Linked DNA regions of Homo sapiens. The protein of the gene in region 1 interacts with the protein of each later gene in a pairwise test. Each region holds a gene or a part of one and is shown on either strand. Other genes may lie near its edges.

Region 1 (7,613 bases):
ACAGCGGAATCAGGACTTTGGCTTCTAAACATTTCCCCATTTTATAGCTTCCTTATGTTTTCAGAGTCTTTTTTTGGCTTCCTTTAGCACACTCCCGGCATAGATAAGTCCAACACAGTGGGGTAACAGATCATCCATCTTGGAGCCCAGATCTTTAAAGAAAAATCACACAGGAACACAAATACACACACCCACACATGTACATATCACTGTCAAGGGTAACTTAGCAGAATCTTGCCGAGTGACTGGGGGAGCTGAATATGGTTGTCAACATGTATTCCCCACTTCGGGTAAATCTGACAGACTAGCCTTGTTTTTCTCAAATTCCAGAGCCAAGCTTTCAATATGGTTTGTCTTCTTTGCTGGTGTGCGTGAATCTCTGAGCCATAACTGGGGCGTGTGGTGAAACGATGGAATCACGGACTTTTAAATATTAACAGGCAACTTAAAAAAGCCCATTCCAACCACCTCATCCACCAGGTGAGACAAGACGAAGGGGCCGTGGGTGACACAGCCTGTGGCAGGCCTATTTCTGCAGTCCCCTGTCAGGCACATTCCTGTATTTCAATGGGCACCTAACACTTCACCATATCTCCCACGTGGGGAACCAACACTTAAAAGGTGATTTGTGTAAACAGAAACCTCCTTTTCATGCTCATTGATAGGGATAAACAAGGAAGCACCTCTGGAAGAGGTAACACTACTCACTTAAGTTTTAAGGTATCAGCATGTATCCAAAGAGAAGGATTTAATCAAGGGAGGGCTGAAGGAGAGGAGAAAACAGAAGAGAAGCAGCAGAAGGGCAGTGGATGAAGAGGGCGAGGTCAAAGTCAGAGAGGCCTAGGGACAGCTACTTACAGTTCAGGACCTGGACTGGCGCCAGGAATGGACTCCAAGGGGTGAGGGCCCAGCTTCTCCCTGCCTTCCTCCCAAAATATGCAGAGACCTAACTGGATTCCAAGGGATGAGGGCACAGCTTCTCCCCCCTCCCACCCATTTCCCAACATGCAGAGCCCATGGTGGCAAAATCCCCTGGCTCAGGCTAAAGTCAGAACTGGTCTGGTTTCCTGTGTTTTTCAAATCTCTGCCATTTGGGCAGAACGCTTGGTCCTATAAACCAGGAGTCATCAGTATCCACAGAGAAGTTGCCTCAGCACTTGGACCCAAGTCAACTGTGTTTAAAATTTCACACCAAATCTATAAATTACACATTCACATTGTGGGCCAGCCTACCTTTTTTTTCAAATAGTATTCAAGGTATTTTTCTTTTTTTTTCTTTTCTTTTTTTTTTTTTTTTTGAGACGGAGTCTCGCTCTGTTGGCCAGGCTGGAGTGCAGTGGCGCCATCACGGCTCACTGCAAGCTCCGCCTCCCGGGTTCACGCCATTCTCCTGCCTCAGCCTTCCGAGTAGCTGGGACTACAGGCACCCGCCACCACGCCTGGTTAATTTTTTGTATTTTTAGTAGAGACGGTGTTTCACCGTGTTAGCCAGGATGGTCTCGATCTCCTGACCTCGTGATCCGCCCGCCTTGGCCTCCCAAAGTGCTGGGATTACAGGCATGAGCCACTGCGCCCGGCTATTCAAGGTATTTTTCAATACCTTGCTGCCTGGCTACTGCAGTGCCAATTCTGCCATTCCCCCCCGCTCCTCAATTCAGGCATCACCTGAGGGACTTGCAGAGCATCAGGGATCTGGCCCCTCTGAGATCTTGCTGGTCTACTCAAGCCTTTGTACAGCACCAGGCAACGAAATTAAATGTGGGACATGCACTATCACAGAATAACTTTTTAATTGCTTAATTAAATCAGAGATTTAAGGAAGGAGAGATTCAAAAGAGTTCCCTTTGAATGAGAAAAATAAGGATATGCCAAAATGGATAAAGTTACTAATCATGGGAACAAAGCCCTTAGTATTTACATATGATAAAAATGCAGGCCAGTATAGTAAAATCAGTAAGTACATTCTTTAAAATTTCAATTCAGTATATTCCTGAGATTTTATTATACAGGTAGTACTATAAAGAACATAGAAGACCTCATTATCCAACTTAATTCAGACCAGGGTTTGATTAAAAAAATAAAAAACAAAAAACTACCACACAGGACAAAGAAATTGCCATAAAATTGAGTTCCTATAAATGTGTTCCAGTTTAAGTAACTAAGTCCCTAAAATGAGCCTTAGTAAAGTCTACGCTGCATATAGACAGACTTAGGCACATCAAGTATACAGGTGACAATTAGCAAGTGTATAAAGCTATGGTCATTTCGCTAAATGTGTAAATCTAAAGGCAACCAAGTAAAAGACCTAAAAAAGGAAACTGTTAAGTCCATTTGTACATGGATTTAACAGTGAAGCATTTCATTCTTCATGTTTTCACTTGGTGTCTTGAAATAATCCCCTTTCTGTCTCCACTCTCCCTCTTAGACACTGCACCTGCCTTATTTATTTATGAAGTCTGAAGGTTAGTCCTACCTGCTGAGACTAATTAGCCCTGTGCTTTGTATCCTATGCAATCCTGTCTGATTAAATGTACACATTTGTTTTACTTCTTTTCAGGCTCCTTCTCACTCTACTTCTGATATTCTGATTAATATCAAAGTTGGGAGTTACAGTGATTCTCCTCTGCCTCCCCCCCAACCCATTTTTATTTTGCCTGCATCTTATTCTTTAGTGTGCAAATGTGGTTGTGATTTTTTTCCAGTGCAGGGGAATTCGTTGGCCTTGTCAATCTCGGTATCATTATTTTTAGTAGTCTTTCTGAGACTTTAGCCTATAAAACAGTTTTGCTGAAACCCCAAACTCTCTAAATATTACATGGCAAATTTGCTTTCTTTTGGAAACCTCGGTGCTGATGGGCCAGCTGAAGTGCAGGTGAGCTTTTTCAGGGAAGGGTGGGACAACAGTACATCCTGGACTCTAGACTAATACTACTCCTAAGAGGCAATTTGCTAAATCCTACTGATTTATTTTTTTCTTTTTTCTCTTTTTCATGTTGTAGTGTCCAGTCTACTTCTTACTGGGTATTTGCAAAAATGAATTTTCTTGCTCTATCACCCAGGAACATTGTGTTTTGGGAGCTGGGTCTTTCCTCTTTAACATAATTCCATTCCCCATTTTGTAGCAAATCAGTCTGCTCCTCCTCTAATACCTAAAAGTCAACAAATACCTGCCTCAAGCCCCAGGTTTCCCATCTTCTCCCGAAGGTCTTCTAGCATCGGTTTGGTTAGCAATTTCCTGCCAGAGCCACCTACATCTTGATTATTTTGGTCAGTCTTTCGGGGATTTCATTTCAGACCCCCTTCGAGAAACACTGTAGCCCAACTGATCCCAGGGGTTGGTGAACTTTCAGTTTTATTTTCCCTGACGGTGTTAACGCCCAAACTTTTCACCTCCTAAGTCAAAAAGGACTTTGACTCTAGCTCATTTCCTACTACCTCCAACGTCAGTTAAAAAAAAAAAAAAAAAAGCAAAACACCACTCTACATTTAAAAGAATCATATATTTTTCCTTAAGGATACTTTTAATGTTTCTGACATTTAGCATTTGTTTTTTGCATAAAAAGTCGTTTTGGCATATCCATCCTAGTGGGACTTAACATTTCATGAAATGATTCACTACTAATAAACAAAAAAGGGAGGAGGGAGGCCTCATGGGTTAATAGTTTCTTTCATTGTAGATGACCAGGAACTTTGACCAGCCCCTTCACTTCCCCAAGCTCTCTGAAAGTGGAGGGTTGATCTTTCCTTTTGACCACTTTTGTCGCATCCCGTCTAAGGGTGGCTGATTTCACTGCTGAATTAACCACCAAGCACCCCCCCACCCCCTCCCCCAGCCACCACTTTCTCAAATACTACCCTTCCTTTTCCCCCTCCCTTAAGACTTATTTCTAATATTTCTAAAGTGCACTGTTTTGGGCCTCTCCCCATCCCCGCCCCCCAAGTGGGCTTTCCTTCCGCCTTCCTCGGCTCGGATTCCTGACTTGGTCGCCACCCCCTTCTCCTCCTCTCCCACCCCGCATTGTCTTTCTGAAACCGCCCCCTCCCGGAGCAAGTCCCTGCACCCTCGCCCAGAATCCCGGGCTCGCACACACTCCGCGCAGGCCGCTCCCCCTGCACACTCCTCCCTCCGTCTCCCCCCGGCTTCCCCGCCCCTCTCTTCCTCCTTCTTTCCCTCCTCCCTCTCCCGGCGCCCGAAAGGATCATTGTTAGCCGCCCCCGCCCCGCCCACCCCGGCTGTTTATTTATGCACACGTCACTGGGCCGGCCCCGCCCTCCGGCATCTCATTAAGGCAGTGTGTTCCTCTCGCCCTGTCAATAATCTCCGCTCCCAGACTACTCCGTTCCTCCGGATTTCGATCCCCCTTTTTCTATCTGTCAATCAGCGCCGCCTTTGAACTGAAAAGCTCTCAGTCTAACTTCAACTCACTCAAATCCGAGCGGCACGAGCACCTCCTGTATCTTCGGCTTCCCCCCCCCTTTGCTCTTTATATCTGACTTCTTGTTGTTGTTGGTGTTTTTTTTTTTTTTACCCCCCTTTTTTATTTATTATTTTTTTGCACATTGATCGGATCCTTGGGAACGAGAGAAAAAAGAAACCCAAACTCACGCGTGCAGAAGATCTCCCCCCCCTTCCCCTCCCCTCCTCCCTCTTTTCCCCTCCCCAGGAGAAAAAGACCCCCAAGCAGAAAAAAGTTCACCTTGGACTCGTCTTTTTCTTGCAATATTTTTTGGGGGGGCAAAACTTTTTGGGGGTGATTTTTTTTGGCTTTTCTTCCTCCTTCATTTTTCTTCCAAAATTGCTGCTGGTGGGTGAAAAAAAAATGCCGCAGCTGAACGGCGGTGGAGGGGATGACCTAGGCGCCAACGACGAACTGATTTCCTTCAAAGACGAGGGCGAACAGGAGGAGAAGAGCTCCGAAAACTCCTCGGCAGAGAGGGATTTAGCTGATGTCAAATCGTCTCTAGTCAATGAATCAGAAACGAATCAAAACAGCTCCTCCGATTCCGAGGTAGGAAAAGCCCCTCGGGCTGGTGGGGTTTTTTATCTGTTTCCTGGGCTTGGCAAATGTTGCTGAAAGGGGAGAAATCGGGGCTGGGGGCGGCGGCGGGGCCCGGCGGGCGGCGTGTGCGTACGGTGCCACCATTGCAAAAACTTGTAACCCTGTTTTTTTCTACCCCCCCCTCGACCTCGCCGATTCTTTTTCTCCCCCTTCTCCCCCTTCTGCGTGGCGTTTGCCCCTCGCCCTCCCCACCTCCACCCCTCTGGGAAGGCGGAAAGACGGCCTCCGCCTCGCTCCGAAAGTTTCCGAGACAAATCCCGGGAAAGTTTGGAAGAAGGTGAGTACGCCCCGCGCGCCCCGCAGCCGCCCGGAGCCGCCCCCCGGGCCGGCCGCCCCGCGCGCCCCGGCCCCGCGCCCGGCTCGGCCTGGCCCTGCGCCGGCCCGGTCGGGGCGCCCGGCCCCTCGGGGCACTTTCTAAAAAGTTTCTCCTCACTCTCTCCCGCTCCGCGCGGCCGCCGCTGTCCCCTCGCCGCCCCGCCATGTTAGCGGCCAAGAGGCAAGATGGAGGGCTCTTTAAGGGGCCACCGTATCCCGGCTACCCCTTCATCATGATCCCCGACCTGACGAGCCCCTACCTCCCCAACGGATCGCTCTCGCCCACCGCCCGAACCGTAAGTGCCTCCGCGCCCGGCCCCCGCCCGCTGCCCGCCCGCCCGCGCCGCCCGCCGGGCCCCGCATGCGGCCCCTGCCCTGCCCCCTCCCCGCCTCCCCCTCCCCGCCTCCTCCCCTCCCTCCCTCCCCTCCCCCGCTCGTGGCCCAGGAGGCCCGAAACTCTCCAAACTTTTCTGCCTTTTGTGGACTGGATTTGTTTGCACTTCGCCACGTTCTTGCTTTCAGTTTGCTGCCTCGTGATGTTGGGGAGACCTCTCTGTCCAAGCAGGGCTTTGTTGGTGGGGAGGGGGGGGAATCCGAAGAACTTTCCTTTGCGTTCTGGTTCCCCCTCCCCCTTTGGTGGTGGTGTTTGTTTCTTCACCCTGGGAAGATGACTCTGTGGCTCTTCCTTTGCTCTCTCTCCCTCTCTCTCCTTCTCTTCCTTCCCTCTTCTGTGGCGTCTTGGGCTTTCCCCGGTTAACCCCTTGGCTGCCGCTGCGGGCCACGAGTGACTGACTGTGCTGCGCCCGATGCGCGGGGTAGAGAGTGGGTTTCCTCCAGGCATTGGACTTGAGAACTGGCTAGCGCGCAGAGCCCGGGGCCCTGGAGAGGCTCCTTGGCTTTCTCTTTTGGGCGACTATGTATTTAGCTTTCTAGTGGAGATTGCTGGCTCTCGGCCCTCCTTCCCCCTTCCCCTGGAAGGTCACACTTCCCAGATTGGTCCCACCGCAAACTTGGGGGCTCTGAGGCGTCCTTTTCTTTGGCAACCCGCAGGGCCGCGAGCGCCCTGGGCGCCGTGGCGGGCTCCGCTGCCCGGCGCACTGGCTGCGGGCTCTCCCGGGCCGCGCAGGGCAGCAGGGCTGAGTGGGGCGGGGAGGCCCCTGCGGCCCGGATTCTTGGTTTGTGTGCAGCCGGAATGGACTCCTCCAAGCGGACTTGTGTATTTCTAGGGAATTTTGGCGCCTTGGGATGTATGGCGGGGTCGGCGCTCGCCAGCTTCCGTGTAGGCCCGTCGTGGGCCCCAGGGGGGCCAGAGACCAGGGTGTGCGGGCTCAAGGAGGTGCGGGGGCCGAGGGAGGCTGGGGCGCCTCTCCTTCAAGGGAGTGGGCCGCCGATCGCCGGCCACCCAACTTTGGGGGCCCCAGGGCAGCGCGGGGTGCCGGGCTCGGGGGGCGCTTCCTGCAGGGTCGGTCCCGCGCCCAACCCTGACATTTGTTAATACGGCTCATCCCCTCCCCCACCGGCCTGTGCCCCCTGCCCTCACCCTGAACCCCCTCCTCCTCATCCCTCCCTCCCTCTTCTAAGAAGCCTGGATTACGAATCCCTGGACGCAAGACGCATTTGTGCCCGGCTTCCCGGTATTGTCATTTTACACCTTCTCCAGTTTGGTCCCCTACCCCTTATTTACACACACGACTTTTGTTTTTTCTTTTTCGGTAACTCTAGATAGCAATTTGAAATAATGCACCCACTGTTCAGCAGCCATGGATTCGGTGCTAATGGCCGAGGGCTTGCCGGACGGGAGTCGATCAGATCTACAAGTGTTTTTAAGCATTAAAATATTAACTATCAGGTTTGACTTGCTTTTTTGGGCCCTGGCAAAATGGCAAGGGCATGCTAGACCGGTCATTTTTTTTATGGCTAGGGAAGAGAAATAATTATTCCCCCCCTGCCCGGCGCCCAGACATGCTTGGGAAGCTGGGAGAGCGGTTCGGCTCAACCCCCTTCTCCAGGGCCAGTTCCACCAGGCTGCAGGGGCCGCGCTCTGGGCTTGCAGCTGTAGGGGAAGCACAGTTCGCTTACTTTGTATTTTTCTTGGGAGCTTGTGGGGCATCTTAAACGGGACCGTTCGGCTCAGAATCGCAGTGTTCGCCTACCAATAAACCGGACCAAGCAACATTCCAAAGAATCCCTGAGAATTTCTGCCTCTCCTCCCCTCCCCCTTCCGATGGAAACCTCCCT
Region 2 (5,424 bases), on another chromosome or scaffold:
GAGGCCCCGGGCAATGTGGGTCTCCTGGATCAGAGGCTGGCCCTGCAGTGGGTGCAGGAGAACGTGGCAGCCTTCGGGGGTGACCCGACATCAGTGACGCTGTTTGGGGAGAGCGCGGGAGCCGCCTCGGTGGGCATGCACCTGCTGTCCCCGCCCAGCCGGGGCCTGTTCCACAGGGCCGTGCTGCAGAGCGGTGCCCCCAATGGACCCTGGGCCACGGTGGGCATGGGAGAGGCCCGTCGCAGGGCCACGCAGCTGGCCCACCTTGTGGGCTGTCCTCCAGGCGGCACTGGTGGGAATGACACAGAGCTGGTAGCCTGCCTTCGGACACGACCAGCGCAGGTCCTGGTGAACCACGAATGGCACGTGCTGCCTCAAGAAAGCGTCTTCCGGTTCTCCTTCGTGCCTGTGGTAGATGGAGACTTCCTCAGTGACACCCCAGAGGCCCTCATCAACGCGGGAGACTTCCACGGCCTGCAGGTAACTAGTGGCTAGCTGGCGTGAAGCTGGCTCCTCTGGGTCCCAACGGTCCCTCCCCTCCCTGCAGGGACCCAGGCATGAGGGCTTCTCCAGGCCCATTCCCAGAAGTCCCAGAAGTCCTCCCTGAGGGCTCAGATCCCAGGGTGGTCAGCAGGGCAGACAGGAAAGCCACCATGGGTCTATTTTCTCTTTCTCTGCATCCCTCCCCTGATCTCGTCCTCTCTCTGTCCATGGTTCCGGGTCTGTAACTGTTCATCTCTCTGGCTCTTTGTCTGTCCATCTGTTTCTGTCTACTTGTCTGTCTGTGCCTGTCGCTCCATCCCACCCCCCTCTCCCTCACCCCCAGGTGCTGGTGGGTGTGGTGAAGGATGAGGGCTCGTATTTTCTGGTTTACGGGGCCCCAGGCTTCAGCAAAGACAACGAGTCTCTCATCAGCCGGGCCGAGTTCCTGGCCGGGGTGCGGGTCGGGGTTCCCCAGGTAAGTGACCTGGCAGCCGAGGCTGTGGTCCTGCATTACACAGACTGGCTGCATCCCGAGGACCCGGCACGCCTGAGGGAGGCCCTGAGCGATGTGGTGGGCGACCACAATGTCGTGTGCCCCGTGGCCCAGCTGGCTGGGCGACTGGCTGCCCAGGGTGCCCGGGTCTACGCCTACGTCTTTGAACACCGTGCTTCCACGCTCTCCTGGCCCCTGTGGATGGGGGTGCCCCACGGCTACGAGATCGAGTTCATCTTTGGGATCCCCCTGGACCCCTCTCGAAACTACACGGCAGAGGAGAAAATCTTCGCCCAGCGACTGATGCGATACTGGGCCAACTTTGCCCGCACAGGGTCAGCAGTGCAGAGGGAGAGAAGGCTGGGGAGGACAGGAGTCGGGGGCGGGAGGACACACAAAGGCAGACACACGGAGACAGAAAGGACGGGTGGGACAGGGGCAGGATAGAACAGCCAGAGAGGGATATGCTCACAAAGTAGATAAAAGGGGAGAGAAAAAGAAAGGAGACAGAGAAGGCAGAGGGGGTCTTGCAGAGACAGAGGCAAAGGAAAGTGAGGAGGAGACGAGGTAGACATGGAGGGGGCGGGGCACAGTGGCTCACCCCTGTAATTCCAGCCCTTTGGGAGGCCAAGGTGGGAGGATCCCCTGAGGCCAGGAGTTTGAGACCAGACTGGACAACATAACAAGACCCCGACTCTTAAAAAGAAAAAAAATACAAAACTTAGCCAGGCACGGTGGCTCGTGCCTCTAGTCCCAGCTACTTGGGAAGGTGAGGCAGGAGGATTGCTTGAGCCTGGGAGGTTGAGGCTGCAGTGAGCTATGATGGCACCACTGCACTCCAGCCTGAGTGGCCCTATCTCTGGAAAAAAAAAAAAAAAAAAAAAAGGGAGACCAAGACAAAGGAGTTGGAGCTGGATTAAGTCAAACCAGTGATGATTCACTAGCAGTGACACATTCTCTCACACACACACCAGTTTACCTGGATCGAGAAGAGGACAATGAAATCTAGCATTGGATGGGTGTTGTTAAAAAATGTGATGTTTGTAGACATAGGACCCGTCCTGGTTATTTAGGAAAGTCTCAAGACATCCTAGCCATTTTTTTAGTGAGAGAAACAAAGATGGAACAGAAAAGCTGAGGGAAACGGAAGGAGACGGAGCGCTTGAGGAAGGGAAGACCCCAATGACCGCGCACATTGGAGAAAGTGGTGGGAGGGAGGGGACGGGTTCTCTGGGGCTCTCCGCTGAGCTGAAGAGTCCGGGATCCCGTGGAGTTGGGGGCCACCTCCTCCCACTGCCCGTCTGGACTGAGCCTTCCCTTCCTTCCGCAGGGATCCCAATGAGCCCCGAGACCCCAAGGCCCCACAATGGCCCCCGTACACGGCGGGGGCTCAGCAGTACGTTAGTCTGGACCTGCGGCCGCTGGAGGTGCGGCGGGGGCTGCGCGCCCAGGCCTGCGCCTTCTGGAACCGCTTCCTCCCCAAATTGCTCAGCGCCACCGGTATGCAGGGGCCAGCGGGCAGCGGCTGGGAGGAGGGGAGTGGGAGCCCGCCAGGTGTAACCCCTCTCTTCTCCCCCTAGCCTCGGAGGCTCCCAGCACCTGCCCAGGCTTCACCCATGGGGAGGCTGCTCCGAGGCCCGGCCTCCCCCTGCCCCTCCTCCTCCTCCACCAGCTTCTCCTCCTCTTCCTCTCCCACCTCCGGCGGCTGTGAACACGGCCTCTTCCCCTACGGCCACAGGGGCCCCTCCTCTAATGAGTGGTCGGACCGTGGGGAAGGGCCCCACTCAGGGATCTCAGACCTAGTGCTCCCTTCCTCCTCAAACCGAGAGACTCACACTGGACAGGGCAGGAGGAGGGGGCCGTGCCTCCCACCCTTCTCAGGGACCCCCACGCCTTTGTTGTTTGAATGGAAATGGAAAAGCCAGTATTCTTTTATAAAATTATCTTTTGGAACCTGAGCCTGACATTGGGGGGAAGTGGGAGGCCCCGGACGGGGTAGCACCCCCCATTGGGGCTATAACGGTCAACCATTTCTGTCTCTTCTTTTTCCCCCAACCTCCCCCTCCTGTCCCCTCTGTTCCCGTCTTCCGGTCATTCTTTTCTCCTCCTCTCTCCTTCCTGCTGTCCTTCTCCGGCCCCGCCTCTGCCCTCATCCTCCCTCTCGTCTTTCGCACATTCTCCTGATCCTCTTGCCACCGTCCCACGTGGTCGCCTGCATTTCTCCGTGCGTCCTCCCTGCACTCATACCCCCCCTTCAACCCGCCCAAATGTCCGATCCCCGACCTTCCTCGTGCCGTCCTCCCCTCCCGCCTCGCTGGGCGCCCTGGCCGCAGACACGCTCGACGAGGCGGAGCGCCAGTGGAAGGCCGAGTTCCACCGCTGGAGCTCCTACATGGTGCACTGGAAGAACCAGTTCGACCACTACAGCAAGCAGGATCGCTGCTCAGACCTGTGACCCCGGCGGGACCCCCATGTCCTCCGCTCCGCCCGGCCCCCTAGCTGTATATACTATTTATTTCAGGGCTGGGCTATAACACAGACGAGCCCCAGACTCTGCCCATCCCCACCCCACCCCGACGTCCCCCGGGGCTCCCGGTCCTCTGCATGTCTCAGGCTGAGCTCCCTCCCCCGCGGTGCCTTCGCCCCTCTGGGCTGCCAATAAACTGTTACAGCCACGGGAGTGTGCGCGACTAGGGAGCCAGGGGTAGAGGCAGAACGCCGGAATCACGGGGGCCGAGTCTATGCAGGAGCGGGGCTGGAGGGCAAGAAACAGGCGAGCTCCGAGGCGGGCGCAAGGCAAAGGCCAACCCCTAGCCCTGCCCTGCCGGGCGGAGCTCGCGCCTGCGTAATGAGGCCCGCAGGCAGGCTAGCTGGCACGGCGGAGGGGAGGAGAGGGGAGGGGAGGGGAGGGGAGGGGAGGGGAGGGGCGGGGCGGGGCGGGGCGCGGCGGAGCATTGTGGGAGCTCCTCGGTCGGTGCCGGTCGGTGGCTGCCTATTGCGGCCTGCGGTGATCAACGAGGCCCGGGGAGCGCGTCCCCAGTCTGCGCGCCGGTCCTGCGGCAGCTGGCCCAAGACCCGGAGCCGAAAGGAAGTGTTGGAGCCTGAGGTCGCTCCGCGCCGCTAGGAGGACGCTGTGCCTGGCCTGGGACCTCCGCTCCCGCCCACCGCCCTGGAGCCGCTGAGGGACGTCCACGTGGGCCTGTCCCCGCCGAGCCGCGGCCCTGTCCGCCTGGCGCTGCTCTCGGGCCACTACCTCTACTACCACTACGGCTGCGACGGCCTGGACGACCGCGGCTGGGGCTGCGGCTACCGCACTCTGCAGACGCTGTGCTCGTGGCCAGAGGGCCAGCCCGCGGGCGTACCTGGACTGGCCGCCGTACAGGCGGCCCTGGAGGACATGGGCGACAAGCCCCCCGGCTTCCGGGGCTCCCGGGACTGGATCGGCTGCGTGGAGGCCAGCCTCTGCCTCGCTCACTTCGGAGGGCCCCAGGGACGCCTCTGCCACGTACCCCGGGGAGTGGGGCTGCACGGGGAGCTGGAGAGGCTTTACTCGCACTTCGCAGGGGGTGGGGGCCCAGTCATGGTTGGGGGGGACGCAGATGCCAGGTCCAAGGCCTTGCTGGGAGTCTGCGTAGGGTCAGGCACGGAAGCCTATGTCCTGGTATTGGACCCTCACTACTGGGGCACTCCAAAAAGCCCCAGTGAACTACAGGCTGCTGGGTGGGTGGGCTGGCAAGAGGTGAGTGCAGCCTTTGACCCCAACTCCTTCTACAACCTGTGCTTGACCAGCCTTAGCTCCCAACAGCAGCAGCGCACCTTGGACTGAGGACGAAGTTACAGAACTGAGATTCTCGGGTCCCAGACACGCACCTATGTACCTCCCACTGGTGTCCCTGCAAAGCCTGGCGCTTTTGACATCAATAATAAAAGTGGCAGGGCTGAGCAACACCTCAGGAGTTACTCTGGAAGGATGGAGGAGTTATGTAACACACGAGAGTCAGGAGCCCTGTGGAAGTGCTTTTATTAGCAGTAAGGCTGATCGTACAAAAAATTCTCAGAGCTTCATAGGACAAGGTAGTACAAGTATGGATGATACAGGACTGAGGAACGGGGGACGGCTCAAAAGAAATCAACATCGTCTGGGGCATCCAGGTCCCGATATTCCACAATGGCCCTTGGGTCTCCACGAACCATCCTGTGAGGTGAGAGGTACAGGATGAGAGCTGAGGGCTCCCAAAAGGGAGTCTGCAGGCGGCAACAAAGCTTGGGCGTCTGCCCTCCTCACCTGTTGCGAGGTTTCCCAGGATAACCTCCCTGGCCTCGGAAGGCATCATAGTTCCCTCGACCAGCACCATACGGGGCATGGGGGTATGGAGGGCCTCCTGTGGGGACTGCAGGGCGGACAGCACCAGCTATGACAGAGATCAGTGTTGAGTTGCAAAACTATG

Evidence for each region.
Region 2: the proteins of TCF7L2 (region 1) and UFSP1 interact in binary tests that used the Homo sapiens proteins (3 or more experiments, as listed by UniProt).

Annotation. Positions count from the first base shown.
Region 1 is NC_000010.11:112,945,937-112,953,549, forward strand, and holds the start of TCF7L2 (transcription factor 7-like 2), read left to right. Parts: upstream 1-4,310; 5' UTR 4,311-4,820; coding exon 4,821-5,009; exon of another isoform or gene 5,010-5,071; intron 5,072-5,270; coding exon 5,271-5,337; intron 5,338-5,546; coding exon 5,547-5,671; intron 5,672-5,841; exon of another isoform or gene 5,842-6,406; intron 6,407-7,613. UniProt on the Homo sapiens protein: Participates in the Wnt signaling pathway and modulates MYC expression by binding to its promoter in a sequence-specific manner. Acts as a repressor in the absence of CTNNB1, and as activator in its presence.
Region 2 is NC_000007.14:100,888,221-100,893,644, reverse strand, and holds UFSP1 (ufm1-specific protease 1), read left to right. Parts: upstream 1-3,929; 5' UTR 3,930-4,145; coding exon 4,146-4,802; 3' UTR 4,803-4,924; downstream 4,925-5,424. Other genes in the region: ACHE (acetylcholinesterase), read left to right, coding at 1-480, 827-1,311, 2,307-2,476, 3,310-3,431; SRRT (serrate RNA effector molecule homolog), read right to left, coding at 5,096-5,171, 5,262-5,388.